Regions from separate parts of the Homo sapiens genome. Here regions 1, 2, 3, 5, 6 and 7 are each reported to be linked to region 4. The links are microRNA targets in miRTarBase. Many come from high-throughput screens and were not tested one by one. Region 4 holds a microRNA gene; each other region holds the end of a gene's coding sequence.

Region 1 (4,079 bases), not on the chromosome of region 4:
CAACAGCCTCAGATTCCAATCACCACAGGAACAGGTGTTGTGTATCCTGGTGCTATCACTATGGCAACTACCACACCATCGCCTCAGATGACATCTGACTGCTCTAGCACCTCGGCCAGCCCGGAGCCCAGCCTCCCGGTCATCCAGAGCACTTATGGTATGAAGACAGATGGCGGAAGCCTAGCTGGAAATGAAATGATCAATGGAGAGGATGAAATGGAAATGTATGATGACTATGAAGATGACCCCAAATCAGACTATAGCAGTGAAAATGAAGCCCCGGAGGCTGTCAGTGCCAACTGAGGAGTTTTTGTTTGCTGAATTAAAGTACTCTGACATTTCACCCCCCTCCCCAACAAAGAGTTATTAAAGAGCCCGCATGCATTTGTGGCTCCACAATTACATCAGCAGAATGGTCTTAATTGTTTCGTAAAGTGTGAGACAGATTAAGTTTTCCCTGATTTTTCATGAACTTGAGTTTTTTGTTGTTATTGTTATTGTTGTTGTTGTTGTTTTTTTAATTTAGGTGAAGACATATTAAATATGAGACACCAGGACTTGAAACTTATCTCAACCCGTAGATGTCTTACAAGTCTTATATTTTTGTCTTACTTTTTTTTTCTTTTGGATGTTGATAAAGGTTTAAGTTACTGTTTTAGATGGGGTTAAACATTCTCACTCAGGTATGCTGTGCCGGCCTACAGGTTGTGAATGTGTTTTTATTCTGAATTATTTTAGAAAACAACTGAGGATTTCATATTGTGAAACAGAACAAGTCCACGGCGTGTGCAGCTGCATGTAGAGCATATTCAAAAGGCCTCGGAATTCCAATTTTCCATTTGTAGAGTTAAACTTTGAATGTGCCAAACTTTTTCGTAACTTTTGAATCTTAATATTTTGAAAGTCTTAAAGGAGACACTGCAAAGTCTTAGACAATCTTTGGCATCTTAAAATAAAATAGCAAACCAACATTTTTTTTTCCAGAAAATGGTAAGGTACTCAGGAATCTGGAGACAAGATATTGTAAGGAATGAACAAGGTTGCCACAGTGCATGGACCCAATTGTGTTTGCCTGTTGACGTGCCATCAGTGCGTGATGTGGTATGACATACACACACCAGAGCAACCGCCACACCAGATATCGACAGAGTGGTCTTCTCTGCCTGAGACCACCTCTCACTACATCCATTATCCCTTTGCCTTTAACCCTGACATTCAGTCTTAACACATTTTATCTTAAATAATTTATTCATTCCAGAATGTCAAGGGTCCACTTGCTATTTATTTTTTTTCAATTGTTGGTGGCATTAATTTAATAATTCTTGTTTTTCACCTTCCTTCCCCGAAGAACTTTTCCGTCCTTTTCACCTCCTTCTCCTGTGTACATAGTGATTTTATGTCCCCAGAACGCCTGGAAGCATTTCTGAAACCAAGATATTATTAAAAACCTATTATTGTTTTTAATCATGAGTATGTATCTGGCTGCAGGGCTGTGTATTGGGATATAGGTATATAGTCTTACACTTAAACAGGTATGCCCCTGAGGTTCACTGTGACCTCAAGTCTTTTGCCAGAATTTTCCCCTAATTCAGTTCACAAGTGGTAGGGTCTGCATCAGTGGCATTTCCCCCTGAATTCCATTCAGCAGCAAGGTTCAACAGTGGTGACTGCCAGGCAGGAGAGTCCTGCGGCCAAACCTGAAGCCCAAGGCTCGTGGGCCATGCAGGAATCTCAGTGAAGCTGTCATGGGCTGGCACCTTTACACTGAGTTGCCTTGTCCCAGCTGGCACATCTAGGGAGTTCATTGCAAAATCCCCAGGATGCAAAAAGCCACATGACAGCCTCAGAGCAAAGATGGTGGCAAATAGTCATGATACATCTAGAGAATGAAAGAAAACTGTAAGGGAGGAGAAGGAGGGGAATACATTCCCTATATGGGATGTTCCTACTGTTAACTCTGGGGAACAGATAGCTCCGGGGGCAGCAGATGAGTTCCTCTGGCTGACTCTATCTGTAGCCACATGGGGACCTGCCTACGTGTGAACAAAATGAACTGCACTTATCACACAAGGATTTCTTTGAAGACATGCTACTGGGGTGGGAAGCAGTGAGGTTTTATTCCCCATCTCCTAACTACAGGGAGCTCTGCCATGTCATTTTGGCCTTCCTGAAACTAGGACAGGTTGTCTATCGGGGGGCTTCCCCCAGAGAGGTTTAGTGGGAGAATGTCAGTGAATGGGATAGTTCACCTCATGGGACAACCCAGAATCTGATCACCAGGACATAGGAATGGCCCCATCAGATTTCTTGAGCCATTTTGTCACTTGGAAGAAAATAGTGTACCTTTGTATTTATTTAAGAGTGCTCAAGGCCTAATAGCAATAAACAGGTCTAGCCAAGAAATTACAAGCTATTCTGTTAGCTGGGAGTGCTCTCTATAAGCTGATTAAGGTACTGATAGGAACTCTTTGTTATTCATGTTGGTTGGGGATTAGAAATTTGTTTTTGTACATTTATTTCAAATGAGGAGGAGGTCATTTTTTCTCTCAAAAAATGAGTATTTATTATTGTCTTACTGATTTCTTTGATTATATACCTCTCCTCCTCAGTTCACTCTTGTTTTTTTTCTTTCTCTTTGGCTTTTGCTTTTGCTCTCTCTCACTTCTTTCTTATTTTGTTGCATTGGTAGAGTGTTGTATGGCTAGCATTGTATTGTATGTAATTAATTTTGCACAAAAGCAAACATTTAGCATAGTAGGTTAATTTTGTTTGTTTTTATGACCATGCCAAAATAATATTCTGGGCTGGTGGAGAACAAAGGACTGTTCTTTAGGACTGAAACTTGATTTTGCTCATAGTAAGTAAAAAAAAACAAAAAACACACACACTCACAGATGTTGTTTCGTAAGTGTTATAAGCACTGGATATAAATGGTATTTTTTATCACTTCTGACTAATGTGAAACTGTTGTACGAAAACTACATGAACAAAAGTCATCTGTTTCGACTCGTGTGGGCTTGCCTCACAGTTGCCGGATTTGAGTCATTTTTATGTCTTGTTATTTCATTTATTTATGCAAAATACATGTGTGTATGAACACTTTGTTTTAGCTCCAGCTCTGCCTCAGTACTGGGGTTCATTTACTTTTAGCCATGTTCTTAAAAATGAAAGGCTATTCAGGAATGATCTGATTGTAAACGTCTTTTTCATTGGATCAAACAGTAATGCTGTATTTGAATCTAAATTTTGTGTATAAGCAGTTTATTTATTAGCCAAGTTTGGCTCTAAATATCCATGGAAATTAAGAATGACAATCATAGGGATCAATTCATTTTATTTTCAGTGGGGCTTAAACAAAGTTTATATGACTTTACCATCTCATTTTAGATTTTTCTAATTGTGTAAATATAACATAGAAATAGAATTTATTTTTGGTTCATGAATACTTAGTGAGATATAAGTTATGTATTTCCTTTTTGTTCTCTATCCATAGATGTTGGTCCAAACTGAAAGTTGATGAGTCACTGTGCCTCTCGGGGTAGTGAGTTATCAGCTACAGTGAGAGAGCAGTGTTTGGCCTGCAGCTGGGACAGCAAAACGTTTCACCAGGGTTCTCATGCAGTTCAGAACCCACTGTCCACAGATCCAGACATTTCCCTTTTTTCTTACAGAAAGTTGATGATTGGACATACTAAATTTCCACTACAGTTAGGAGACAGTCAGTTTGCTTTGGGAGTCTACATAAATCTTCTAAGATAGTTCTGTGACCATTTAATAGCAAGAAGCATGAATGCCACTACAAAGGCAAAAATCCACCTCTGAGATCGGCCGTTAATAAACGTCCCGTCATGTCAGTTTAGATTCAAGAATGTTAAGCAACTTTGTTTTTGCGGTGCTCCCTATTTCATAGTATCTTCAAATCAAAAATAAAAATTATCTCCATTTTGTTAAAGAACTTACAGGGTCAGGGTTCTCCTTGTCACTTAGAATTGGGACACTGCCAGGCAATCCTCTCCCAAAAAAAAAAAAAAAAAAAAATAGCCATATGGAATGGAAGGAAAAGGAGAAAAGAAGGAAGA
Region 2 (4,079 bases), not on the chromosome of region 4:
GCTTTGTCAAAGGTCACACATATGATAGAAAATCAAGTTATACTTTTAACTTTCATTTTCCATTCACCAGGTCATACAGCAGATGGAACAAAAAAAATTACAACAAGGAATTCCTCCATCAGGGCCAGCTGGAGAATTGAAGTTTGAGCCACGTGTGTAATTTTGTTTGATTATTTATTTAGGAAAATAAATTATTTTATCAATTGAAATCCACATTTATTACAAATATAATTTCAAATCATTAAGATGTTATGTTATTTTTTGTGTATTTTTTGTGGTATTAGAGCAATTTAGATTATAGAAAAATGAAAATGCCTCCAAAAGTTTTATGTAGCAGCAAATTTTAAGTGCTGTATCATTTGTATAATTTGATAACCATATTTATGGTAAAATGATTTATTTCAACTTTATTTGTAATTCTTTCTAATTATATTAATCTTACCAGAGAATATGTTTTTTAAAATTGTGATCTATGATTAGCTAAGCATATTTTTTAAAACAAGTATATTTGTATATGAAGGAACATTTAGAATAAAGGAAGATACTTTTAAAATAAGAACTTTTTTCTTTTTTCCAACAGACATTTAAAGTCTGAAGTCCACCAGAACTTGGAAGAAAGCTGTTAACTCAACATCTATTTCATCTTTTTAGCTCCCTTCCTTTTTCTCTGCTCAATAAATATTTTAAAAGCATATTTGAAATAAAGGGAGATACTTTTTAAATGAAAACACTTTTTTTGGGACACAGATATTAAAGGATTGAAGTTTATCAGAACCAGGAAGAAAACAAACTCACTGTCTGCTCTCTGCTCTCACATTCACACGGCTCTTTTATTTATTTTTTTGTTCTCCTTTAATGATTTAATTAAGTGGCTTTATGCCATAATTTAGTGAAACTATTAGGAACTATTTAAGTGAGAAAACTCTGCCTCTTGCTTTTAAATTAGATTGCTCTCACTTACTCGTAAACATAGGTATTCTTTTATGGGTGCTTATCATTCCTTCTTTCAATAAATGTCTGTTTGATATTAACAATTCTGGAAAGGCCACAGTATTTCCCTGTGTTTCCTGGTAACGTTTTTCTAGTTTTGGCAACCTCAACTGCTAGAAATTCTTCACCTGAATCACTTTTGCTACCACTTCAGGTCATTTTTCATTCTTTTTTATTTTGCTCTATACTTTATCATTTAAGATTAGGTTATGTTACATATAACAGAAAAAACAAAGATAACAGTGGTTTAAACTAAATAGGAGTTTTTCTTCTTACATAAGTCTAGAAGTAGGTGGTGTCCAGGTTCCTATCTTTCTGCTCTGCTATCCTCAGTGCATGATTTTTATCCTCAGATTACCTCACTCTCACTGTTCAAGTTTGCTCCTGGAGGCAGTGGGGAAGGCAAGAAAACTGGACTTTCTCTGCTTGAGTTAGCTTCCCTGAGGCCATTTTCCAGAACCAGCAGCACCTGAACTTATGTTTCGACCAGAACTGGGTCACACTGATGGCCACACCTAGCTGCTAGGGAGGCTGAGAAGTCAATGTGGCAATGTGACCAGCTAAAAGTTGGATTCTTTTACTAAGGAAGAAGGGAAGAGGGAATGTTTGGTAGGCAACTTTGGATTTTAAACTCAGCCAGCCTTGTTGGCTACCTAAATTCTGTGTACCTTCTTCTTCCGAGAGAGAAAACACTCACCCCTCTCTCCCTGAAGAGAAACCACCAGAAATCCAGCCCATTATTGCATACTAGATGAAAGACCATGCTATCTGGAGACAGTCCCCTCCATCATGTTAGGGTGTGGCTCCTTGTGTTCTGGCCACCTACAAACTGAAAGACAAGTTTTCTGCCCTGAGAGCACCAGATGCATAATGCAAAGGTGCAGGAAAACTGACCTTTTAAATTTTTTAGAGACAGGGTCTTACTCTGTTGTCCAGTCTAGAGTACAGTGGTGTGATCATAGCTTACTGCAGCCTTGAACTTCTGGGCTCAAGTGATCCTTCCACCTCAGTCCCCCTAGTAGCTAGGACTACAGGCACATGCCACGAACGCCTGGCTAAACATTTTTTTTTGTAGAGATGGAGTATTGCTATGTTGCTCAGGCTGGTCTTAAACTCCTGGTCTCAAGCAATCTTCTCACCTCAGCCTCCCAAAGCACTGGGATCACTGGTGTGAGCCACCATGCCCAAGATCCCTAAAATTGACCTTTTAGAAAAAGGGAGAAATAGAAATATAGTGGCCACTGATCCATAGCAATTTGAAAGTACCACTTGGCAAAAATAATTAAATCTCTCTGCTATAGTTCATGAATATATTCCTTGGTTTGCCTATCAGGCAACCCCTGATTCACCTTTCTGAGAGGAATTCCTTTACCTAATGTCCTCAGGGGGCCTTGGTTTTACTTTCTTGGAGGTTTTTATTGTACATTAATTTTCAGACACAATCTGAATGGGCATTGGAAAGTATACCCTTCTTGGAGGCTGGGCAGCCTTAGCAGTTTACTTCCTATAATTGTGAGTCTGGGGGCAGGCTTGGGAATTAGAGTATAGATCCGTAACAGCTACAGTCTATTGCAGGCCAGGTTTGGGTTTTTGTTGTTGTTTTGTTCTGTTTCTTGGCCAAGTGGATTCCTAAAACTTTAGTAAGTTTCTGGTCTGTTGTCTTCAGTCATTTACATGGACAGTATTAACCAAGGTAAAATACATTGTTTTTAACAAAGAACCTCATCATTTACTTGCTGGCCTCTGTGTGCTCTCCATCCCCTTTGTTCTTACAGGAATGGTACCTCCTTGAGATCCTTTGAGACTGTAGGCTTGCATGGAATGGCAACAGTCTTAATCTGATCTCTTCCCCTAGGATGGCTCCTATTATTTGGCAGAAAATTCTTAAGGGAAGGTTCTTAAAAAAGGTTGAGAAAGTTTTAGTAGCTCCCTCAGAGCCTTTACTTATAAATGTTTCAGTTTGGAGTACAGTTTTCAATTCTTCAGGGCTCCAGATTTGGGACTTGGTCAATTTATATGGTAGACAAAGAGCAATTCTCTCAGCAAAGCTATTTTTCCCTTGCGTCACTGCAGACTTGTTAATCTTAGTCCAAGTCACATATCTCTTGTAGGGCTTTGCTGAAAAGAGGCAAGAAGCAGCCAACACATGCTAGCACTCTGAAGTTCTACCACCTTCGTCTCTGTGGCAGGAAGTCTCAACCTCACCTTGACTTCTGTTGGCAAGAAGTCTCACTGCCCAAAGCCCTACCTCCTCAACTAAGCCAACCCCAGATTTAGGGCCTTCGACTTGCTGTGCTTTACTTCTAGCTGCCAAATTCTGTATAGGTCAAGATTCTTGGCTGTAAGCAATGAAATCTTCTTTAGCTATTAAACAGAAGGGAATTGATGAATGAGTATATATAGGTCACAGAATCAATGGGAGGGTTGAAGAAACAGATCTAGGCTGAGCTTCTAGGAATTATGTCACAAGAGTAGGCTGCTGAAAGAGCTGCTGCTTTTAGAACAATCAAGAAGCTGCCTGCTGGATTAGGAAGCTGCCTGCTGAACAGTTGCCAGTTCCAGAGCCACACCACCTCTGCCATGCTTTATGCCAGCAAAAATAGATACATCTCTTCCTGCCTCTGTCCCCACGTTACTTGGCTCTGAGTAAAAGTCTCAAGTGAGTGAATCTGATGGACTGGACCAATCATATCTGAAACCCTAGCTGCAAAGGAGGTTGGGAAATATAATGTTCAACTTTCCTACCTCTGTGTGACAGGAATGCATGTTAAAAGCTACCCTAGGCCGGGCATGGTGGCTCACGCCTATAATCCCAGCACTTTGGGAAGCCAAGGTGAGTGGATCACCTGAGGTTAGGAGTTCCAGACCAGCCTGGCCAACATGGTGAAACCCCATCTCTACTAAAAATACAAAAATTAGCTGGGTGTGATGGTGCACACCTATAGTCCCAGCTACTCAAGAGGCTGGGGCAGGAGAATTGCTTGAGCCTGGGAGGTGGAGGTTGCAGTGAGCTGAAATCATGCCACTGCAATCCAGCCTGAGCCACAGAGCAAGGCTCTATCTCAAAAAAAAAAAAAAAAGGCTACCCT
Region 3 (4,065 bases), not on the chromosome of region 4:
TAGACCACATTCCATGTGACGTGCTTTTTTCTGAACATCTTTCCATCAGGATGCCTACATTCGAATCGTGGCATGATGTGAACAATCAGTTACTCCCATTAGATCTTGGTCTTCTTACCTATGGACTAGGGACAATACACCTGGCCCCACACTACCTTTGTATTGAAGTCTTTGGGAAGTAGGAAGTGCTCTACCAACAGGAGAAGTGCGATAATTACAGTAATTAACAGTTATATATATTGAAGTCTGCAGTCATGGGATGGGATGACTGATCAGACCTCTCTCACCCTCTGTTCTACAGCTGGTGGGTGCTGGTCAGCTACGGAGTCCTCTTGGTCACCCTGGGAGCCTTCATCTTCGGCCAGACCACAGCCAACGCCATCTTTGTGGATCTCTTGGCATAACCACTGCCTCCCAGGGAACACAAGGCCTTTGCCATTGGTCGCAGGAACCCATCTCTTAGAGCTATGGGGCCATTCTTAGTCCACGATCATTCCAACTGGTGGGATGACATCCGGACATCCTCTTCCAGGGACTGGGGCAAACTCAGGCCCCACACCTCTGGACAGCTCAAATCCAGTCCCCTTCCTGCTCCCCAGTCCTGGCAGTGCCGTGGATGGCGGCAGGAAGTCTCACATCATAGAGGACCCCTCCTCCTCTCCCAGTTCTCAACTTCTCCATGCCTGGAATCCACGGGTGAAGAGAGTCGGTAGATCTCATAAGAAAGAATCCAGTCTGACTTCCCTCTGGAGAATGACTATGGACAGAAGGCCACCATCCTCCACAGAGCACCCTGTCCTGAGTAGGGGTTGTGCTCATTACCCCAGGCCAGTGGTAGCTTCCTCAGGAGCCTGGCCACTTCCAACGGTAGCACTGAAGTCATGCAAATGCATAGTCAGGTAGATTCAGACCTTGTCCACACCTTCCTGGGCAACCCCCACCATGAACCTGTCAGCCTCTTTCCCATAGCTAATAGACATTTCCCAGGCCTTGAGGGGCCCCACCCTGTCTCTTTCATCAAACCTGATGGTCCAGGCTGGGCATCCCTCTCCTCCTCCATCCCCAGACATCACCAGGTCTAATGTTTACAAACGGTGCCAGCCCGGCTCTGAAGCCAAGGGCCGTCCCGTGCCACGGTGCTGTGAGTATTCCTCCGTTAGCTTTCCCCATAAGGTTGGGAGTATCTGCTTTTGTGTCTGAGATGGGCCCCTCTTTTCAGAGGCCGCAGGGTGGGTGATGGAGAAGGCTGAGAACCTTTCAGACCCTCTGTGTGGGCTGGGCTGGTCAGAATCAGGGTGTACCTCCCCGACACCTTCTTTTTCAGTGATGTTTTCTCTTCTTCCTGCCTTTCCTCTGCCTCCTCCCCTGCCAGCCCTAGCGTGACTACCCAGAGACAAAAAAAAAAAAAAAAAAAAAAGGCAGGGCTGGGCGCAGTGGCTCACGCCTGTAATCCCAGCACTTTGGGAGGCCAAGGCGGGCAGATGACTTGAGGTCAGGAGTTCGAGACCAGCCTGGCCAACACGGCAAAACCCCATCTCTACTAAAAATACAAAAAATTAACCGGGCATGGTGGCGGGCACCTGTAATCCCAGCTACTTGGGAGGCTGAGGCAGCAGAGCCGCTTAAACCCAGGAGGCAGAGACTGCAATGAGCTGAGATCGTGCCATTGCACTCCAGCTTGGGCAACAAGAGTGAAACTTCATCTCAAAAAAACAGAAACAAACAAAAAGGCAGCTGGGTTGTCACTGATGGGCAGCATTTGAGCCTGCCACACTGGCCTGGAAGTTTCCCTTCCAGTCTGGATTTTGTCTGCTCCTTCCTTCCCCCTCACCCCGTTACCTCTTCACCTCCCATCTCACTTCACTGTGTAGCTCAGTCTCTCCCACGCACATAATTGGGGACAGTGGGGGCTCTCTTACCAGCCTCCTCAGCAACGCACGTCCATCAGGCCTGGCCTCAGTGGCCAGCCACATTGATGTCACACTGGAATTGTTACCCCAGAGAGGGCGAAGAGATAGGCTATCTCCCCACCTCCCACCCTACTCCCCACTATATTCCCGTTTTGACCACCTCAGCCCCTCAGCTGCCCCCTCTCACTTTGGCCAATCCCAGGCACCAATCAGACTTCCTCCTCCACCTGGAGCCCCTAGCATTTCCTTGTCCCCTCTTCCCCAAAACCTCTGTAAAGGGTACGAGAGGGACCCCCTGCCGAGCCGCCCGCCACTCAGGGCAGTCCGATCTAAGAAGCAGAAGCTGGTTGGAGGCTGGCTGGGCCTCTGTCCAGTCCCCAGATGGATAAACTGCCTTTTCTCACATCCCCTCTTGGTGCCTGATCTTCTCTGCCCCCGGGGCCAGACCCACTGTGCTGTTTTCTGTCAGTCTGTGGCACAGCACCAAGCTCTGCCAGCACCAGTCCCTGACAGGGCTAGGAGGACAGCCTGGTCAGCAGGGCTGCAGTCCCCCAGTGCCGTGTTTCGGGGGTCAAGGGATGTAAGTGGAGTCATTGCACAGAGACAGACCAGTCAGGAGAAGGAGCTGGAATCTGGCCTCTTGTCCTAACCTCAGGAGCCCCCTCCCATCCTCTCCCCACCCTCCCTATCGGGGTACTTCACTGTTTCTTTTCTACTTGTGTATACTCGAGAAAGGGAAGATGGTTAATAAAAGGGATTTGTGCTGCTGAGCCGTGTCCCCTGTGTCTGATCCTGGGGACAGAGTCCAGGCCACTGCCAGGAGGAAGAAGGGCTGGGGTAGGAGGTGTAGATGGCATGTCACTGTCTCTGACCCCTATCTCCGGAATGGCACCGCCATGCTCCCTCTACCAAGCAGGGACCTGCAAGTGGCTCTTGCCACCCCTGCTTTCTTCCACATTCTACCTATCCTTCTCCAGTGACTTAGGAATGTATCGCAGTCTCCAATCCTGCGACCTCTGCCTTCACTTAAGCCCTCACTGTCTTTCCTGTGCCTTTGTGGTCTCAGACTGTCCCCCTGACTTCAGATCTTGGCAAGAGCTTTAAACTCCTGAGTATCCACCCCCATCTTTTCAGAGGCGAGCGTTGAGCAGGTCCCAGCTGTCTTGGTTATGGAGCCACCAGTCACCACGCTCAGTGCTGGCAAGAAAACCAGCAAAGGCCAGGTGTAGTGGCTCACGTCTGTAATCCCAGCACTTTGGGAGAACAGGGTGGGCAGATCACCTGAGGTCAGAAGTGCGAGACAAGTCTGGCCAACATGCTGAAACCCTGTCTCTACTAAAAATACAAAAATTAGCTGGGCATGGCGGCGCATGCCTGTAATCCTAGCTACTTGGGAGACTAAGACAGGATAATTGCTTGAACCCAGGAGGCAGAGGTTACAGTGAGCCGAGATCACGCCATTGCACTCCAGCCTGGGCAACAAGAGTGAAACTCTATCTTAAAAAAAAAAAAAAAAAAAAAAAAAACCAGCAAAACAGACTCCAGTACTGCTCTCAGCCTAGTTGTGGGAAGACTGATGCTAAGCAAGCAATGACACAAATATACACTTCCAAATTGTGGTTAAGTGCCAAGGAAGGAAAATACAGTGTGTTAGTCTGGGGGCTGGAAAGTTGTCTGGGGAGTCAAGGAAGACTTCCTGGAGGAAGTGATGTTTGAGCTGGCCTGTGACTGATGAGTAGGAATTAGTAAAGAGAGGTGGGGAGACTTTGCCAAGCAATGGAAACTGCATGTGCGAAGGCCTTGAGCTGGGAGGAACATGACTTCAGGAACTGAAAAGTGGCCAAGGTAGCCAGACATTGACTGTGTGTTGGGAGGTTCTTAAATGACTCCCTCTTGCCTTTAGGGTCAAGTCTAACCAACTCATCTCTCACCACACTTCCCCTCTCCGCTCCAGCCACACTCAAGTGAAGGTCAGGCTCCAACTCCTAGTAAAAGTGGGGGACTGACCCTGCAAGGAAGAAATACTTCAGAAAGGCTCGAAGGGTAGGGTGGCTTTGGGCTTTGGGCCTGACTAGGGAGCGAATAACGAGGTTGAGTTTAACCGTCTCTCAACAGAAGGAAGGAAAGGATGCGTCTACGCCACAGGCGTACTCCA
Region 4 (4,079 bases):
TGCGTCGGGTCAGTCCTGAGACTCTGGCCCTACAGATCACAGGTGCTGGGGCCAGGCGCCCGCACGGGCCTGCCTAGCGACGTTGAGTCTCCCCGAGGACATGGTCACTGAAGAGGCCTCTGAGGCCTCAGCCTTGTTCCTTCACCAGCCTCCACTTGCCTACGTCCTGGGGAGAGACCGCTGGCTGGGGTTCAGAAGCCCTGTCCCTGGCCACCTGTGGAAGCCCTGTGCCCTGGCCTCCTCTGGGCCTCTTCCTTGTGTCCTGAGCCTGGGACACAGGGACAGCCCCAGACCTGCAGGAGTTCTGCTGCCTGCCTGGGCCCTTCGGCCGGGGGCTCCCTGGCCCTAGGAGAGGGTGTCTGCCTGCCTGTGTGGTCTCGCTCTGTGTGGGCAGCTGTGGGTCTGGCCAGCTGTCCCTGAGGGGCCCTCTCCCTCCGACCCTGCACTCTTGCCCCCAAGGCTGCAGAGCGTGGCCCCTCTCCACGTGCTCGCGGGCTCTGTGGCCCGGGGAAGGCTCTGGGCCTCACTGGACCAGTGTCCGCCTGATGCCGTGAATCCTCAGGGAGCCCCAGCTGTGGAGGCCGCCCCAGGCCAAGCAGGGCCACCTACCCTGGGGGTGGGGTCTGGTTCCCAGTGGCCAGGACAGTGTTGGACACGCTGGCTGGGGGTTCTGAGAGTCCCTGTGAGCCAGGAGGCTGCGGGTGCAGCCCAAGGTGCTGCTTATTGCTGAGCTGGGCAGGCCCAGGAAGGAGAGTCGGCCCCTTCCCTGGACAAGCGATTCTTGCTCACGTGTGCTTTCCGGGCCCCTGACGCAAGCAGAAGCGCGTGGGGAGATAAGGGTTGGAGGAGGCGGGGGGACAGGCTGGCCCCATCCCAGCTCCCGGGCCAGCAGCCCCCGGCCCACAGCCCTCGCCGCCCGCCCGCCCGGCGGGCCCTGGCTCAGCACTCTTCTCACAGCAGGTCTTTGTGCCCCAATCTGGCAGGTGCGGGGGTGCGACGGGGTCCTTGGCACAGAGCAGCCCTCTGGTTGCATGTGACAGCGGCGGCCAAGGTCTCCCCTGCGCATAAATGTGGAGCTCGCTCGGCAGCAGCAGAACTCCCGGCTCAGAGAGTTCTCCACCGCTCCTCCCAGGCTCACGAGGCTCACGGGCTACCCAGCGCCAGCGGCCCAGGAGGCTGGACCACAGGTAAGACGAGGCCCAAGGCCTGCCTCTGGGAACTCGGCCCTGGCTTGGCTCTGCCCTCCTCACTCCCACAGGATCTCCGTGCCCACCAGGCCTCAGTCCCGACTTCTCCCTGCTGCCCGGCACGGGACCCTCCCCCAGGACAGCCACCTCCCAGTGCTGAAGAGCCGGCCCGCCTCAGAGCCGCCCGCCGTTCCTTTTTCCTATGCATATACTTCTTTGAGGATCTGGCCTAAAGAGGTATAGGGCATGGGAAAACGGGGCGGTCGGGTCCTCCCCAGCGGCACCTGCACCAGTGCACCTGCACCTGCTCCAGCAGCACCTGCCTCCTGACTTGGGACTCCACCTGCTTCCTTTCTCCTCGGCCGGGAGCCCCGGGGCTTTGACCCCCACATCCTTGGGGCAGAAAGGGGCCAAATATTCTAAAACAAGGGAAACGTGGATGTGTGCTTTTGTGTGGGTTCTGGAAGTGTCTGGGGAGGACGTGGTCCAGGCCTCTGCCCTGGGTTGATCTCTGCAGCCCCTGAGCTGGGACCCAGGATGCAGAGAGGAGGGCTGGAGCTGGGCGGTGCTCTGTGACCAGTCTGACCGGAGTTGGGGGTGGACCCATTACAGGAGGTGGCGGGAGGGACAACCTGGGCTCTGGGGCCGCCTGGTGGTCGGGGGAAGTGGGGCGGGGTGCCTGGGATCTGGGCTCTGGCTGGGAGGATCCACAACTCATTCTTTGGACATTTTCTTTGCAGACTACGAAGCTGCACCGTGTGGGGCCCACTTTTTATACAAGCGGGTGGCGGTGGATCCAGGCGCAGACGGGAGTGAGGCGTGGCGGAGACGCGTGCACGCTGGGTCTGTGCACTTTTGCTGCTGCTGCTTTTTTTTTTTTTTTTTTTTTTTGAGATGGAGTCTCGTTCTGTCACCCAGGCTGGAGTGCAGTGGCGCGATCTCGGCTCACTACAACCTCTGTCTCCCGGGTTTAAGCGACTTTCCTGTCTCAGCCTCCCAAGTAGCTGAAACGACAGGCGCCTGCCACCATACCCGGCTAATTTTTTTATTTTTAGTAGAGATAGGGTTTCACCTTGTTAGGCTGGTCTTGAACTCCTGACCTCATGATCCACCTCACTCGGCCTCCCAAAGTGCTGGGATTACAGGCGTGAGCCACAGCGCCCGGCTGGCTGTTGCTTCTTAACACCTTTATTACTTTTGTAATCATGGGTATGAGTTGATTTTCTGGTCAGAAATTTCAGTAGAGCTAATTTCATTTAAATGTGTGAGATGTGGTAAAGTTTTGACAATAAATACAAATTTTGACAAAGCAGCTCTGTCGTGCTGGTCTCCTCTCGTTCACGGTGGTTGGACGTCACATTAGTCACGTGTGGACTTGGGGGAACTTAGTTAAAAATGCATAAACACGGGGGGATGAAACGGCTCCTGGGGCCTCGGTTGGGGGCCTGGGCTGGGCACCGGTCTGGGGCCACCCTTCTGATGACCAGAGCCTGGGACCGGCCGGCAGTGTTGGGAGAGCCCAGAGGGACGGCTTGTGAGGGTGGGGGGCACTGGTCTGTCCTGGGCGGGGGCCCCGCAGCTTCCAGGCCTCCACAATGGCCAGGGTGGGACTGCGGTCTTGACTTCCCACTGAAGAAAAATGGACAGGGGGTCCCTCATCAGCCCTGTTTAAAGAATGACAGTCGGCTGCTGTCTTAAAAGGAGGCCTGAACGGGAGTCGGGGAGGCCCCACCCTTCAGCCAGAGTCCTCGTCAGCCGGCAGGGCCACGCCCAGGTCTTTGAAGGCCACAGCCTTTATCACCAATGAGCCCAGCAAATGGAGCAATGAGCTGGCTGAGAGGCCCCCAGGCCGGTTATCAGGGGCTGCCTCCCCAGGCTGCGCCTCCTCTCCAAGCCTAGCACTAATCTCATCTGATAGTCACCTCCCACCTCCCTCACAGCCCGCAGCTGGGGTGTCCGAGGGGAAAGATCAGGCAGCAGGCAGAGGGGTGGGGTGCTTCCGGCCGGGGGGCCGCAGGCCACATGTGGAAGGGCAGCCACGCCCCCCACCCCAACGAGCTCGGCTGCTCCCCCTGCCCCCTAGGGAACGGTGGAGGTCGGCCCTGCTGGGGAGTCTCTTGCAGGCCTTCGAGTCACTCTCCACAGGACACCTGAACATAGGGCTTTAAAGCTGCACAGATAAAGCAGGTATTACCTCGCTGTGCTGTGCGGACATGCAGCAGCAGCTGTTACTCCAGACAGTGTCGGCAGAATGGGGATGCAGGCACGGCTGGATCCAGGGAGCCAAAGGCTCTGCCTCACTCTGCGCTCGTACCCCGCCTGGCTCCGTCCCTCCGCCTCACTCTGCGCTCGTACCCTGCCCAGCTCTGTCCCTGCAAGGCTGCGGTGTAATTAACAGCACCTGCTGGGCTGTGAAAGGAGAGGCCCCACTCTCCAGTATGGTGCCCATTTCCCCAGAAGAGCTGTGGTTCTGAGGGCTATGCCCTCCCTGGGATCTGGGCTGGGTGAGCTGGGCCGTGTGCCCTCACCTGTACTGCAGGGTGGGCGGCTTGCTGGGCAGGGAGAGGGATGAATTCCCCCAGGAAGATGGGCAGGGCTCCTGCCAAGACCCCACCAAGGTGGCTGTCCAGGCTTGCCAAGACATGCCCACGTATCAGGTCCAGCCACTGAGACCCTGCTGAGGGCATTGGAAGGAGCACAGGGGCCAGGACGGGGCTGGAAGGCGTCCCAGAAACGGAGGCCTCCTGGCCACAGCCCCCCGGTCCTGAGGCCGTTGTCCTGTGAATGGTAGGTGGGGGCTGAGGGGCACCATGGGGGAGTGGCTCACTGTGGCTTCTGTGGACAGCCAGGCTGGGAATGAGGGTCCTCCTGGCCTGGGAACAAGAGGAAGCC
Region 5 (4,000 bases), not on the chromosome of region 4:
TGGCACAGTGCCTATTATAGATGTTCAATAATGATAGCTGTTACTACTGCTAATAACATGGAAGTTATTCTCCGCCACTTTTAGAAGTAAGCAATATGTTCCTGTGATTAACACCTTAGAAATCTGGGACATCTCAGTATATAAAATAATATTACTTCACCAGTAACAGATTTCATTATCTTGCTGAGGAGCATCATAGCATTCAAGCATACATTAATAGAGGTGGAGGGCTCTACTGGACTAATATGTGATTAATATTTTATATGTAGGGATAAAACAGAAGAATTAATGGAATTGACAGATGAGCAAAGAAATGAACTGATGAAAAAAGAAAGCAGTCGACTCCAGAAGACTGGACATCGTGTAACATACTCACCTCGTAAAGAGAAAGCACTAAAAATATATCTGGATGGAGCACCAAATAAAGATCTGACTCAAGACTGACTCTGATAGTGTAGCATTTTCCCTGGGGGAGTTTTGGTTTTAATTAGATGGTTCACTACCACTGGGTAGTGCCATTTTGGCCGGACATGGTTGGGGTAACCCAGTGACACCAGCACTGATTGGACTGCCCTACACCAATCAGAAGCTCAGTGCCCAATGGGCCACTGTTTTGACTCGGAATCATGTTGTGCACTATAGTCAAATGTACTGTAAAGTGAAAAGGGATGTGCAAAAAAATAAAAAAAAACAACAAAAAAAGCTAACCTTCTATTAGAAAAGGGGACAGGGGAATGAGTAAACTTCTTTTATTGCGGACAAATGTGCACATAGCCGCTAGTAAAACTAGCCTCAAACAGGATGCTCATAGCTTAATAATAAAAGCTGTGCAAAGGCCATGAATGAATGAATTTTCTGTTTATTTCACTGATGCACACATTACCTCATTGACAATTCAGAAGTAAATCCAACGTGTGTTGACTCTTGGAAAGCAGCAAAAACAGGAGCTGAAGAAAAGAAATTCTTGGAACCAGCCGTAACCCAGTAAGGAATTGTGAAGTTGTGTTTTTATTTTGTTTCATTTTTTGCAGAGTATTAAGAACATTATTCTGGAACATCAGAACGTTTCCCTTAGACCGATCCCAGCAGGTGGCAGCTCAGATTGCTGCAGTGTTGTAATTATAACTGATTGTACTTAAGTTATGGATGTAGAGAATATGTTTCATTCATTTATTCAGCATGTAAATAAAATTGATCCTGTTGAGTTATCATAATTGCAGTTCAACTATCTGCCATGATTATTCTTTTCACGTATCATTCATTCTGTACATTTGTGTACATTGAGAAGTATAGCAATCTATGTAAATGTAATCCTCAGTGAGGTTCCTCAGTGCTAGGTCCCATAGGATTGTCGTTGCCCTTGTTAATGAGGTTTCTCTGTTCAGCGGCTTCAATTTTTTTCTCTTTGTACATCTAGTTTTGAAGATTTACTTCAAGTTTGAATCTTCTAGAATGCTTGTAAGTCCAGTTTTAATTTTTAGAGTCAATTTGTAGTTACATGTAGTTTAACTTTTGGGAAACGTCTTAACATTGTTCTGAATAAACTTGCTAATGAGGTCAGGTCATGGTACAGACTGATGCAGTCAACATGATTTCATTGCAGAGTTTATTAGTATCAGCAAGTTTTTGCTTTGCTAAATAAAAGTACTCAATGAACACAATTCTACATAAATTTTGACATACCATCTAATTTATAAAAATCAATAAAAAAGGTTTTGGTAAAACTTTTTCATGCCAGATGCTGTTTACAACAATGAACATGCCAATAAAACATTTGTTCATTCTGTTGTGTTATTTTAGTCATTAAACTTCTGTGGATGAAGAATCTGGGTTAAGAATAGATTTGTCATCTTTAAATATGACATTTTGTAATGTGTATTGGATATCTCATTTCTATGATAAAGGTATATTTACAGTAAAGTTCTCATAAGAGAAATGAAAAGCTGTGTTAATATCTAACTTTGGGGAACCCTGTCAGTATTTCAGATCCGATTTTTACCCTTTTTTTCTTATAAGAAAGATAAAATTAGAAAATACTGTTAGCAAATGTGGCTCTGCCATTTGAATATAATCACCGAGAATTCCATGTCTTAAAAGTCTCCTGGAATCCACAATGAAAAAAAAAATCTTTTCTAAGGTATTTTTCTGGCTAATTTTTATTTGAAGAAAGCTATAGCATTTAGCGAAATTTGACTGAAGTAATGTTCTGAGTTTGCATTAGTGGGATTGGTGATGTTCTCAGAAGAAAATTGGAAACACTTGTGATGAATTGTCTTTCAGATCACTTAGATTTTCTGATGTAAGAGGACAGCTGTTTGGTTCTGATACAGGCCTGCTTACTTGGGATGTAGGGTTAGTAAATGGGGTTTCTGCTTTAAAGGACTGACTTGCTATCACACAAAAGAGGCAGACTTGTAAACACAATGGGCTTTGGAGTTTGGTCTGATTGGGTTTGGTTTAGTATTCCTATGAGCGTAAATGGTAAAATTCTTCTGATACCCACTCTTTAGACTGTGCCTTCTGCTCTGTTCTTTGTTTTATGTTTAACTGCTGTTTCTAATTGCAGGTGTATTACAGATACAAATAAGAGTAAAGAAAATATATTTCATTATAGAAAAGAAAAAATTAAAAGCTTCTTGCTTTTCAGTGCCTGATAGAGTGAAAACACAAAGTTGCACTTTAATAATTTCAATAAAAGCTAATCTGTGTCAGCCTCCCTCTGCTTCAGAGAGTCAGGTGAGCATCCATAACCTAACAGGCAGAGCCCTAGCGATGTGGATCAAGTTTCCTGAGCCCGGGGGCGGTGGAGCCTCATGATCTCTTATCTTTTGAGGCTGAGGCAGGTCACATGCAACAAATTGTGACCCTGCTCCCCACAAGTCATGCAAAGGTTTTGAAGAGCTTTTACCGTGGGGCAGATGAACTTGTGTCAACCATGCACACCCTGTGAGAACCAAGTACCTGTGTTTCTAAGGCGGGCACTCAAGGTGAGGGGTGCATTCTGGCCAAAGAAACAAAAGCTGTGGTTTCAGGACCATGCCGTGTGTAGCTGATCTGTACGGGACGTGTATGTAAGGAAGAGCAATCATGATAGATAAGAACAGTGTGTGAAGCAGCCTTCACACTAGAGTGTTTGGTCATCTCTTATAATGTAAGGGAAGGTACTTTAAAATTCTGGGAAGATGCGATGAACTCATGTCCCAGTCAGAAAATAATCCAATGAAATAAGCATTGGTTGCCAGGCCACAGTTAGGAATTGTATTGTGATACATCTAGAGGCCAAGAGAGCAGGAGAGAGCTACCAACTTACACTGTGGTTTAAGCTAAATGACCGCACAGCATCATAGCATTGCAGTGTTGTTACTAAATCTGGAAGTGACCTGTGAATGTATGGAATACAATAAAGTCTTTTATTCTGGTTCATTTGCTAGTACTTCCTTTTTGATTGGATACTGTAGTTCTTCCTCTGGATTTTATTTTGTTCAGCGTCAAGGCCCTAATTTTGCAAATGTAGTCTAAACCACATTACGTGGACTAGAGGATACTCTGAATTAGCAAGTTTTTTGTTTGCTGAATAAAACTATTCCATCTTAACAATTCTGTGTAATTTTTGAAAAACATCAACATTTTGGTCACTAGTAGTCAAAATCTTATAAGGCCATATGTCCTGAAAGGCAAAACTCTGTGTATGTGCGATTTACCAGGGAGATAGTAGGACAGTTTTTATGAGGGTTTCAAAGGAGTTCATGGCCCAAATGAAGCTTGTGGCCACCTAGGTTTAGTGTACATGAAATTGGAAGATGCTTCTTGATTGTAGTTCCCATGGGGAAGAGGGAGGCTGTGATCATTTGGTTAGATACAGCATTAATTGTCACAACTTGACTTTCAGAAACAAGAATACTGCACAAACTCAAGCATGCATTGGAGCATGTGTTACTATTTAGAAAAGAGTGCAGCCATCAGTAGGTCAAGCTAGGAGGGCAAAAGAGAGTTGAGAGGA
Region 6 (4,068 bases), not on the chromosome of region 4:
GCAGGGACCAGTGTTTTTGGTATGGCATACCTAGTACCTAATAACAGTACCTGGTACATCATTTCTGATAAATATTTGCTTTAATATTTTTTCAGCACCATGTATTTTTTCCTTGCTGTTCAAGTGCGTGTGTTTTTTTGTTTTTAGATGTTTTTTCTGTAGACTAATATTTTCAATGCAAATCTACTTTAAAAACCTAGAGTTTTCTACAGCTTGTTCAATTCCATAAAGAAAACATTGTTTCGATTTTACTTTAGGAAGAAGTTTACAAATGGAAGTTACTTTTACTTAATAATTCAAAATAGTCAAAGGAATAAATTACCATACCATTTTTGTACAATTGAATAGATTTCACTTTAATTTGGAACTATTCTATTGGTTATATAGTCTGCCTATGTCTCTGTAAAGTGTACCTAGTATAATACTGGAAGAATGATTTCAATCTTAGGAAAGTTTTGAATAACTGGCACTATAACATTCTATTGTGAAAAATGTTTTTTAGTCTTATTTATTGTGTATTAGAATGAGAAACCAGAAGCACTGCTATGGGTTTGTCATATGTTTTTTTTAACAAGGGAAGTTTAAAGATCTTTTTTGTTTTATTGTTGTAGGTTGCAAGACAACAGACAGTTCAGAGGCAGGGACAACAGATGGGGGTGGCCAAGTGACAATCGATCCAATCAGTGGCATGGACGATCCTGGGGTAACAACTACCCGCAACACAGACAAGAACCTTACTATCCCCAGCAATATGGACATTATGGTTACAACCAGCGGCCTCCTTACGGTTACTACTGATAGAAATGTTGGCAGCTTTTAGTAAAAGCATTTACTCTGTTACCATGAGAAAAGTTTGGGTGTCTTCTGTTGGTCATAGTTTTACATCTGATTTTACAGAATGGATTATTGATTTTTTGGAAGTTGAGACTTTAAAAAAAATAGATCTTACTTGCGAAATGCGATGGTTGCTGGGAATACCTGAAACTGTGGATTATATTGCTTGACTTCTACCTCAGAATCTTCTTTGTTTCATGACTTAATAGTGCTTTAAGTTTGGTATATTATTTGACCTCTAGGAATTCTTTGTTTTACACAGAAATAAAAATTTTAAAATAGAAAATGCTTTTACTTTGTAAGGTAAGAGAGTATCCATATGCTTAGATGTGCTCGTTTCTAAAATTCTAGAGGTTGATATAATCAGCTCATGAATGCACAGCTATGCTTTTTGTGATAGATTGTACATAACATCAGCAGTTGAAAGGTAAAACAATTGCTTTTTTTTTTTTTTGCATTTGTTAAGTGACTATGGTACTTTGTGATTCCTTAATCTATAGATGAGTCAGCTCCACACTTGAGTCTCTTTTTAGAGGGAAATCAGTAATAAAGCTGTAAAATAAGGAAGGAATCATTGTCAGTTTGTGTCTTGATCTGGTGGTGGTTGGGATAAGGGTACACATCATTTTATACAAACACTAAAGCTTTTTGCTAACAACATAGCAGGTCAAAATTCACACATAAGAAAGTTTAACTCTGTACTGTTCACACTTTTTAATCCTGTAAATAATGCTGCATTTTGATGGTTCTTACTTTTTTGGTATTTAATGTGGGCTGATTTTACAATGTTATATTCACTTCCAGATGCATACCTCTGCTGCTTTCTCTCCTATAAATAGTGATGCTATAAACTTCCTTTCACAGAGATCATTCTATTTCAAATCACTTTAATGATTATTACAATGATTTCATTCAAATAAAAATTTTAAAATATTTAAGCATCTTCACTCCCAAGTTCTGGCAGTTAGCCCATTTATTAATATGGTGAAATGAGATTTTTGGGTTTTTTTATGCTGTCCTTCATATCTGTTGAAAAGGGCTTATTTGGTTTAACAGTAACATTAAGAGTGCAAATTTCAACATAGGTCAAAGGAATTAACAGGCACCTTCCTGACTTTATTAGAGTGACAAAAAAATATATATATTTAAAAAGGCGTCTTCCAGCCAGGCATGGTGGCTCATGCCTGTAGTCCCAGCACTTTGGGAGGCTGTGGGCGGATCACTTGGGGTCAGGAGTTCGAGACCAGCCTGACCAACATGATGAGACCCCGTCTCTACTAAAAATACAAAAATTAGCCGGGTGTGGTGGCACATGCCTGTAATCCCAGCTACTCGGGAGGCTGAGGCAGGACAATTGTTTGAAGCCCAGAGGCGGAAGTTGCAGTGAGCCAAGATCGTGCCACTGCACTCCAGCCTGGGCAACAGAGCAAGACTTCATCTCATAAAAAAAACGGGGGCATCTTCGTAAACCTATTTTTAATGCCTTCTCTCTTAGCACCCCACTCTAGGCCCTCGAGGTTGACTTCTCCAGGTACTTCATGCTCTCCATCTACCTCTCCCTTTTATTCTCCCTTCCTGAAGAGCCATCCTCTCGGGTAACTGTTTTATTGGAAATGACCTAATAAGTCGGGCAGTCACACTAAGATGCAAATACAATTTTAATAGTAAGGGTTTTCCCTGTAACCTCCCTAATTACATCAGTAGGCAAGAAGCCAGTGCTGTTATATAAAGATAGGATTTGATACTACAGATATTTAGTCTAGATAGTAATGTCCTGACTACACCCCAGAATCTTCTCTGAAAGCAGAAGTGTTATCAAAAATATCACCTGGTTGGGTATGGTGGCTCACACCTGTTATCCCAGCACTCTGGGAGGCCGAGGCGGGAAGATCACTTGAAGCCAGGAGTTCGAGGCCAGCCTGGGCAATGTAGCAAGATCCTGTCTCTACAGAAAATTTTAAAATTAGCTGGGTGTGGTGGTGCACGCCTGTAGTCCTAGCTACTCAGGAGGCTGAGGCAGGAGGCTCCCTTGAGTCCGGGAAGAGTTCAAGACTACAGTGAGCTAGGATCATGGCACTGTACTCCAGTTTGGGCTAGATAGATGCTGTCTCTTAAAAGTAATGATTTATAGGCTGGGCACGGTGGCTCACAGTTGTAATCGCAGCACTTTGGGGGGCTGAGATGGGCAGATCACCCCAGGTGAGGAGTTCGAGACCAGCCTGGCCAATATGGTGAAATCCTGTCTCTATTAAAAATACGAAAATTAGCCAGGCATGGTGGCGGATGCCTGTAATCCCAGTTACTCGGGAGACTGAGTTAAGAGAATCACTTGAACCTGGGAGGTGGAGGTGGCAGTGACCTGAGACCATGCCATTGCACTCCAGCCTGGGCAACAAGAGCGAAACTCTCTCAAAGAAAAAAAAAAAGATTTATAAAATCATCTCCTGAGAAAGCACAGGCACTGACCAGTAGTTGGGACAGTATAGCTGACTGTAGCTTTAGGTCAGGATTCTGTGCTGTGCCAGCTGTTGACACAAAGGGAGATGTATGGGTCCAAGGCCAGCGCTGGAGGAGTACTTCTCAGGAAGCTCAGAAGAGAGGTGGTTTTCCAACAGTATTTAAATGTTTTAACACCCAACACAGCTAGGCTGCTTGTGTCCTGAGTATCAGCCGTGCTTGAAAAAATGGGAGGAAACCTTTTAACATGAGTAAATTCTGCATGCTGCATGAATAATCTATGTTGTTATGGTTTTTGTTTTTTAACAGCAGTTACTATCAGACTGTACCCCTGCCCCTGATCTGCTTAAAACCAGGAAGAAATAAAAGGTACAGTTTCTGCTTCATAAGACAGAAAATAACATGAAAAAAAGCTTAAAGATAATTTAAGAGTGAGAGCAAATAAAATAGTGTCAAATAGAATTAATTTCAAGTAGTCTGTTGTAATAACATATGGCATTAGGTATAAGGAATCCTAGCTTCCAGTTCTGTGCTTAAAACATATGTGACCGTGAGAAAATCATGTAAACACTGAGCTTATTGGCTCAGCTGTAAAAATGGGGACAATACCCACCCTGCCACCCTCACAGAATTATAAAAATAAATAATCAAAGGAAGAACTTGAGAATATAGAGTTGTGACCATTAAATCCCTAGTAGGACACAATAGGTGCTGCATAAACATTTGTTGAATCAACGGGAGGGAAGTATTTGGTAAATTGTAAAGCGTAGTGTTGAC
Region 7 (4,066 bases), not on the chromosome of region 4:
CATCCCTATCTAGGAGATGTTCCATATTTTCCTCTAAAAGGAGAGTTTTCTCCTCATGAAACAAACCTTTATCTCTAGCATTGAGTTGTTGTGTTATATTCTTTCCACCCTTCCACTTTTAACTTTCTTGATAAAAGAAATGTTTAATTGGCCTGGCACGATGGCTCACGCCTGTAATCCCAGCACTTTGGGAGGCCAAGGCAGGCGGATCACCTGAGATTGGGTGTTCAAGACCAGCCTGACAAACATGGAGAAACCCCATCTCTACTAAAAATACAAAATTACCTGGGCGTGGTGGCGCATGCCTGTAATCCCAGCTACTCGGGAGGCTGAGGCAGAAAAATCACTTAAATCACTTTAACACGGGAGGCGGAGGTTGCGGTGAGCTGAGATCGCGCCATTGCACTCCAGCCTGGGCAACAAGAGCGAAACTCCGTCTCAAAAAAAAAAAAAAAAAAAAACAAGGAATGTGTAATTGCTGTTTTCTTCCCTCTTCGTATGTATGTAGGGGGAATGAGGGCTGAGTAGTTCACACTTAATTTAGTAGAAATGAGAATCTTAACTTCTGATTAACCCCAATTCTTCTATAACAGTGTTTCTGAATTTTTAATGGGAAATATGTTCTTCTTCAATTCATTGCTATCTCTACTTTCAGGATGGCAAGCTTACCAAGGAGGAGATCGTTGACAAGTATGACTTATTTGTTGGCAGCCAGGCCACAGATTTTGGGGAGGCCTTAGTACGGCATGATGAGTTCTGAGCTACGGAGGAACCCTCATTTCCTCAAAAGTAATTTATTTTTACAGCTTCTGGTTTCACATGAAATTGTTTGCGCTACTGAGACTGTTACTACAAACTTTTTAAGACATGAAAAGGCGTAATGAAAACCATCCCGTCCCCATTCCTCCTCCTCTCTGAGGGACTGGAGGGAAGCCGTGCTTCTGAGGAACAACTCTAATTAGTACACTTGTGTTTGTAGATTTACACTTTGTATTATGTATTAACATGGCGTGTTTATTTTTGTATTTTTCTCTGGTTGGGAGTATGATATGAAGGATCAAGATCCTCAACTCACACATGTAGACAAACATTAGCTCTTTACTCTTTCTCAACCCCTTTTATGATTTTAATAATTCTCACTTAACTAATTTTGTAAGCCTGAGATCAATAAGAAATGTTCAGGAGAGAGGAAAGAAAAAAAATATATGCTCCACAATTTATATTTAGAGAGAGAACACTTAGTCTTGCCTGTCAAAAAGTCCAACATTTCATAGGTAGTAGGGGCCACATATTACATTCAGTTGCTATAGGTCCAGCAACTGAACCTGCCATTACCTGGGCAAGGAAAGATCCCTTTGCTCTAGGAAAGCTTGGCCCAAATTGATTTTCTTCTTTTTCCCCCTGTAGGACTGACTGTTGGCTAATTTTGTCAAGCACAGCTGTGGTGGGAAGAGTTAGGGCCAGTGTCTTGAAAATCAATCAAGTAGTGAATGTGATCTCTTTGCAGAGCTATAGATAGAAACAGCTGGAAAACTAAAGGAAAAATACAAGTGTTTTCGGGGCATACATTTTTTTTCTGGGTGTGCATCTGTTGAAATGCTCAAGACTTAATTATTTGCCTTTTGAAATCACTGTAAATGCCCCCATCCGGTTCCTCTTCTTCCCAGGTGTGCCAAGGAATTAATCTTGGTTTCACTACAATTAAAATTCACTCCTTTCCAATCATGTCATTGAAAGTGCCTTTAACGAAAGAAATGGTCACTGAATGGGAATTCTCTTAAGAAACCCTGAGATTAAAAAAAGACTATTTGGATAACTTATAGGAAAGCCTAGAACCTCCCAGTAGAGTGGGGATTTTTTTCTTCTTCCCTTTCTCTTTTGGACAATAGTTAAATTAGCAGTATTAGTTATGAGTTTGGTTGCAGTGTTCTTATCTTGTGGGCTGATTTCCAAAAACCACATGCTGCTGAATTTACCAGGGATCCTCATACCTCACAATGCAAACCACTTACTACCAGGCCTTTTTCTGTGTCCACTGGAGAGCTTGAGCTCACACTCAAAGATCAGAGGACCTACAGAGAGGGCTCTTTGGTTTGAGGACCATGGCTTACCTTTCCTGCCTTTGACCCATCACACCCCATTTCCTCCTCTTTCCCTCTCCCCGCTGCCAAAAAAAAAAAAAAAGGAAACGTTTATCATGAATCAACAGGGTTTCAGTCCTTATCAAAGAGAGATGTGGAAAGAGCTAAAGAAACCACCCTTTGTTCCCAACTCCACTTTACCCATATTTTATGCAACACAAACACTGTCCTTTTGGGTCCCTTTCTTACAGATGGACCTCTTGAGAAGAATTATCGTATTCCACGTTTTTAGCCCTCAGGTTACCAAGATAAATATATGTATATATAACCTTTATTATTGCTATATCTTTGTGGATAATACATTCAGGTGGTGCTGGGTGATTTATTATAATCTGAACCTAGGTATATCCTTTGGTCTTCCACAGTCATGTTGAGGTGGGCTCCCTGGTATGGTAAAAAGCCAGGTATAATGTAACTTCACCCCAGCCTTTGTACTAAGCTCTTGATAGTGGATATACTCTTTTAAGTTTAGCCCCAATATAGGGTAATGGAAATTTCCTGCCCTCTGGGTTCCCCATTTTTACTATTAAGAAGACCAGTGATAATTTAATAATGCCACCAACTCTGGCTTAGTTAAGTGAGAGTGTGAACTGTGTGGCAAGAGAGCCTCACACCTCACTAGGTGCAGAGAGCCCAGGCCTTATGTTAAAATCATGCACTTGAAAAGCAAACCTTAATCTGCAAAGACAGCAGCAAGCATTATACGGTCATCTTGAATGATCCCTTTGAAATTTTTTTTTTGTTTGTTTGTTTAAATCAAGCCTGAGGCTGGTGAACAGTAGCTACACACCCATATTGTGTGTTCTGTGAATGCTAGCTCTCTTGAATTTGGATATTGGTTATTTTTTATAGAGTGTAAACCAAGTTTTATATTCTGCAATGCGAACAGGTACCTATCTGTTTCTAAATAAAACTGTTTACATTCATTATGGGGTATGTATGACCTTCATTTTCCAAGAAATAGAACTCTAGCTTAGAATTATGGATGCTCTAAAATGTCAGAATGGGAACTCTCCTCGAAGTTCTCCCAAACTCAGAGACAGCACTGCCTTCTCCTAAATGATTATTCTTTTCTCCCTGTTTTCTGGTATTTTCTAGCATCCTTCTCACCACAGCCATAACCCTTTTTTACTTCCATTAGGCCGTATAACTGGAGAGACCTGCTGCTCGTTATATAATTATCTGATACCAAACACAAGCGATTCTGAATGTACACACACGTTTATCTATAGAGCATAAGGTAAAACAATTTTGTTTAACATTTTGGTATTGTTTACAAATGTTATTAAAACATGCAAATTCATTTTGAGAACCTCGAGAGAATTAAACTATTAACTTTAGTAAACACACAGTTTAAGACAAATATAAAGGTTTAGCCAAATGCAACGGGGAGGAAGCACCTGGAATAATTTGTGCTTGCTCAGGGGCTTGTGGACATGGCTGTTCCTGCCAAAGCTGTAGCAGTTATCCAAAAGTTCTTTCAAACTCATATTTGGGGCCACTGAGTTTTTTTTGTTTTTTTTTTTGTTTTGTTTTGTTTTTTCTTTATGTCTCTCCCATTTCTAAAGTGTTTTCTTAAGTTTGTTCTAATTCAGCATATATCATCTCAGAATGGATCCCCAGCAGGAAAAAAAAAAAAAGTTACTAAAAAGGAAAGTATCCATACACTGAAAACTTAAAGCATATTCCTTTTTGGTTGCCTTGTATGTAGAAATCAGTTCTCCAAGTGCTGTGAATGGTGCCACTTAGGAGTAGAAACTGATGATTGTTGAAATGGCCTTTGGGTGGTCTGAAATAGACCAGTGGAAACAGTAGCTTTGTAGGCAAGAAGGCAATAGTAAGAAAATGAAAAATTGACTCCCCAAACTGCCATCACTCCTTTTACCATCTTTTTTGTGTTTTTAGTAGTTTGGTTTCTGACGGAG

What was found. Region 4 holds the annotated microRNA hsa-miR-202-3p (AGAGGUAUAGGGCAUGGGAA, at 1,421-1,440, shown strand). A microRNA usually pairs through its seed, bases 2 to 8, with sites in the 3' UTR of a target mRNA and lowers its output. Matches are read on the target gene's strand: a 7mer-m8 pairs with bases 2 to 8, a 7mer-A1 pairs with bases 2 to 7 and ends in A, and an 8mer does both.
Region 1: the mRNA of SOX6 is a reported target of hsa-miR-202-3p. Seed matches in the 3' UTR shown: 7mer-m8 at 2,593-2,599.
Region 2: miRTarBase lists NUCB2 as a target of hsa-miR-202-3p. Seed matches in the 3' UTR shown: 7mer-A1 at 1,346-1,352.
Region 3: the mRNA of SLC38A7 is a reported target of hsa-miR-202-3p. The part of its 3' UTR that is shown has no 7-base or 8-base seed match.
Region 5: miRTarBase lists USP47 as a target of hsa-miR-202-3p. Seed matches in the 3' UTR shown: 7mer-A1 at 881-887.
Region 6: miRTarBase lists RAMAC as a target of hsa-miR-202-3p. Seed matches in the 3' UTR shown: 7mer-A1 at 1,009-1,015 and 7mer-m8 at 1,643-1,649.
Region 7: miRTarBase lists CALU as a target of hsa-miR-202-3p. Seed matches in the 3' UTR shown: 8mer at 1,988-1,995.

The regions. Positions count from the first base shown.
Region 1 is chr11:15,969,033-15,973,111 of GRCh38, reverse strand. It overlaps SOX6 (SRY-box transcription factor 6), which reads left to right. Exons shown (of 16, transcript NM_001367873.1): 16 at 1-4,079. The coding sequence ends at 303. MIR6073 (microRNA 6073) reads left to right here and starts at 3,491; the gene lies at 3,491-3,579.
Region 2 is chr11:17,330,832-17,334,910 of GRCh38, forward strand. It overlaps NUCB2 (nucleobindin 2), which reads left to right. Exons shown (of 14, transcript NM_005013.4): 13 at 71-152; 14 at 581-1,380. The coding sequence ends at 588. Among named protein-coding and RNA genes, the nearest start is that of NCR3LG1, 19 kb to the right of the region's middle.
Region 3 is chr16:58,663,724-58,667,788 of GRCh38, reverse strand. It overlaps SLC38A7 (solute carrier family 38 member 7), which reads left to right. Exons shown (of 12, transcript NM_018231.3): 12 at 302-2,680. The coding sequence ends at 404. Among named protein-coding and RNA genes, the nearest start is that of SLC38A7, 19 kb to the left of the region's middle.
Region 4 is chr10:133,244,899-133,248,977 of GRCh38, reverse strand. It overlaps MIR202 (microRNA 202), which reads left to right and starts at 1,358; the gene lies at 1,358-1,467. It overlaps MIR202HG (MIR202 host gene), which reads left to right and starts at 1,093. Exons shown (of 2, transcript NR_108079.1): 1 at 1,093-1,187; 2 at 1,928-2,499. RefSeq lists enhancers at 171-685, 1,202-1,716, 3,285-4,079, 3,469-4,079 and a silencer at 1,802-1,921.
Region 5 is chr11:11,955,732-11,959,731 of GRCh38, forward strand. It overlaps USP47 (ubiquitin specific peptidase 47), which reads left to right. Exons shown (of 28, transcript NM_001282659.2): 28 at 270-4,000. The coding sequence ends at 444. Among named protein-coding and RNA genes, the nearest start is that of DKK3, 51 kb to the right of the region's middle.
Region 6 is chr15:82,989,270-82,993,337 of GRCh38, forward strand. RAMAC (RNA guanine-7 methyltransferase activating subunit) reads left to right here. Exons shown (of 4, transcript NM_031452.4): 4 at 612-1,788. The coding sequence ends at 798. It also overlaps a transcript of C15orf40 not described here. Among named protein-coding and RNA genes, the nearest start is that of RAMAC, 5.1 kb to the left of the region's middle.
Region 7 is chr7:128,768,408-128,772,473 of GRCh38, forward strand. It overlaps CALU (calumenin), which reads left to right. Exons shown (of 7, transcript NM_001219.5): 7 at 656-4,066. The coding sequence ends at 760. Among named protein-coding and RNA genes, the nearest start is that of OPN1SW, 5.4 kb to the right of the region's middle.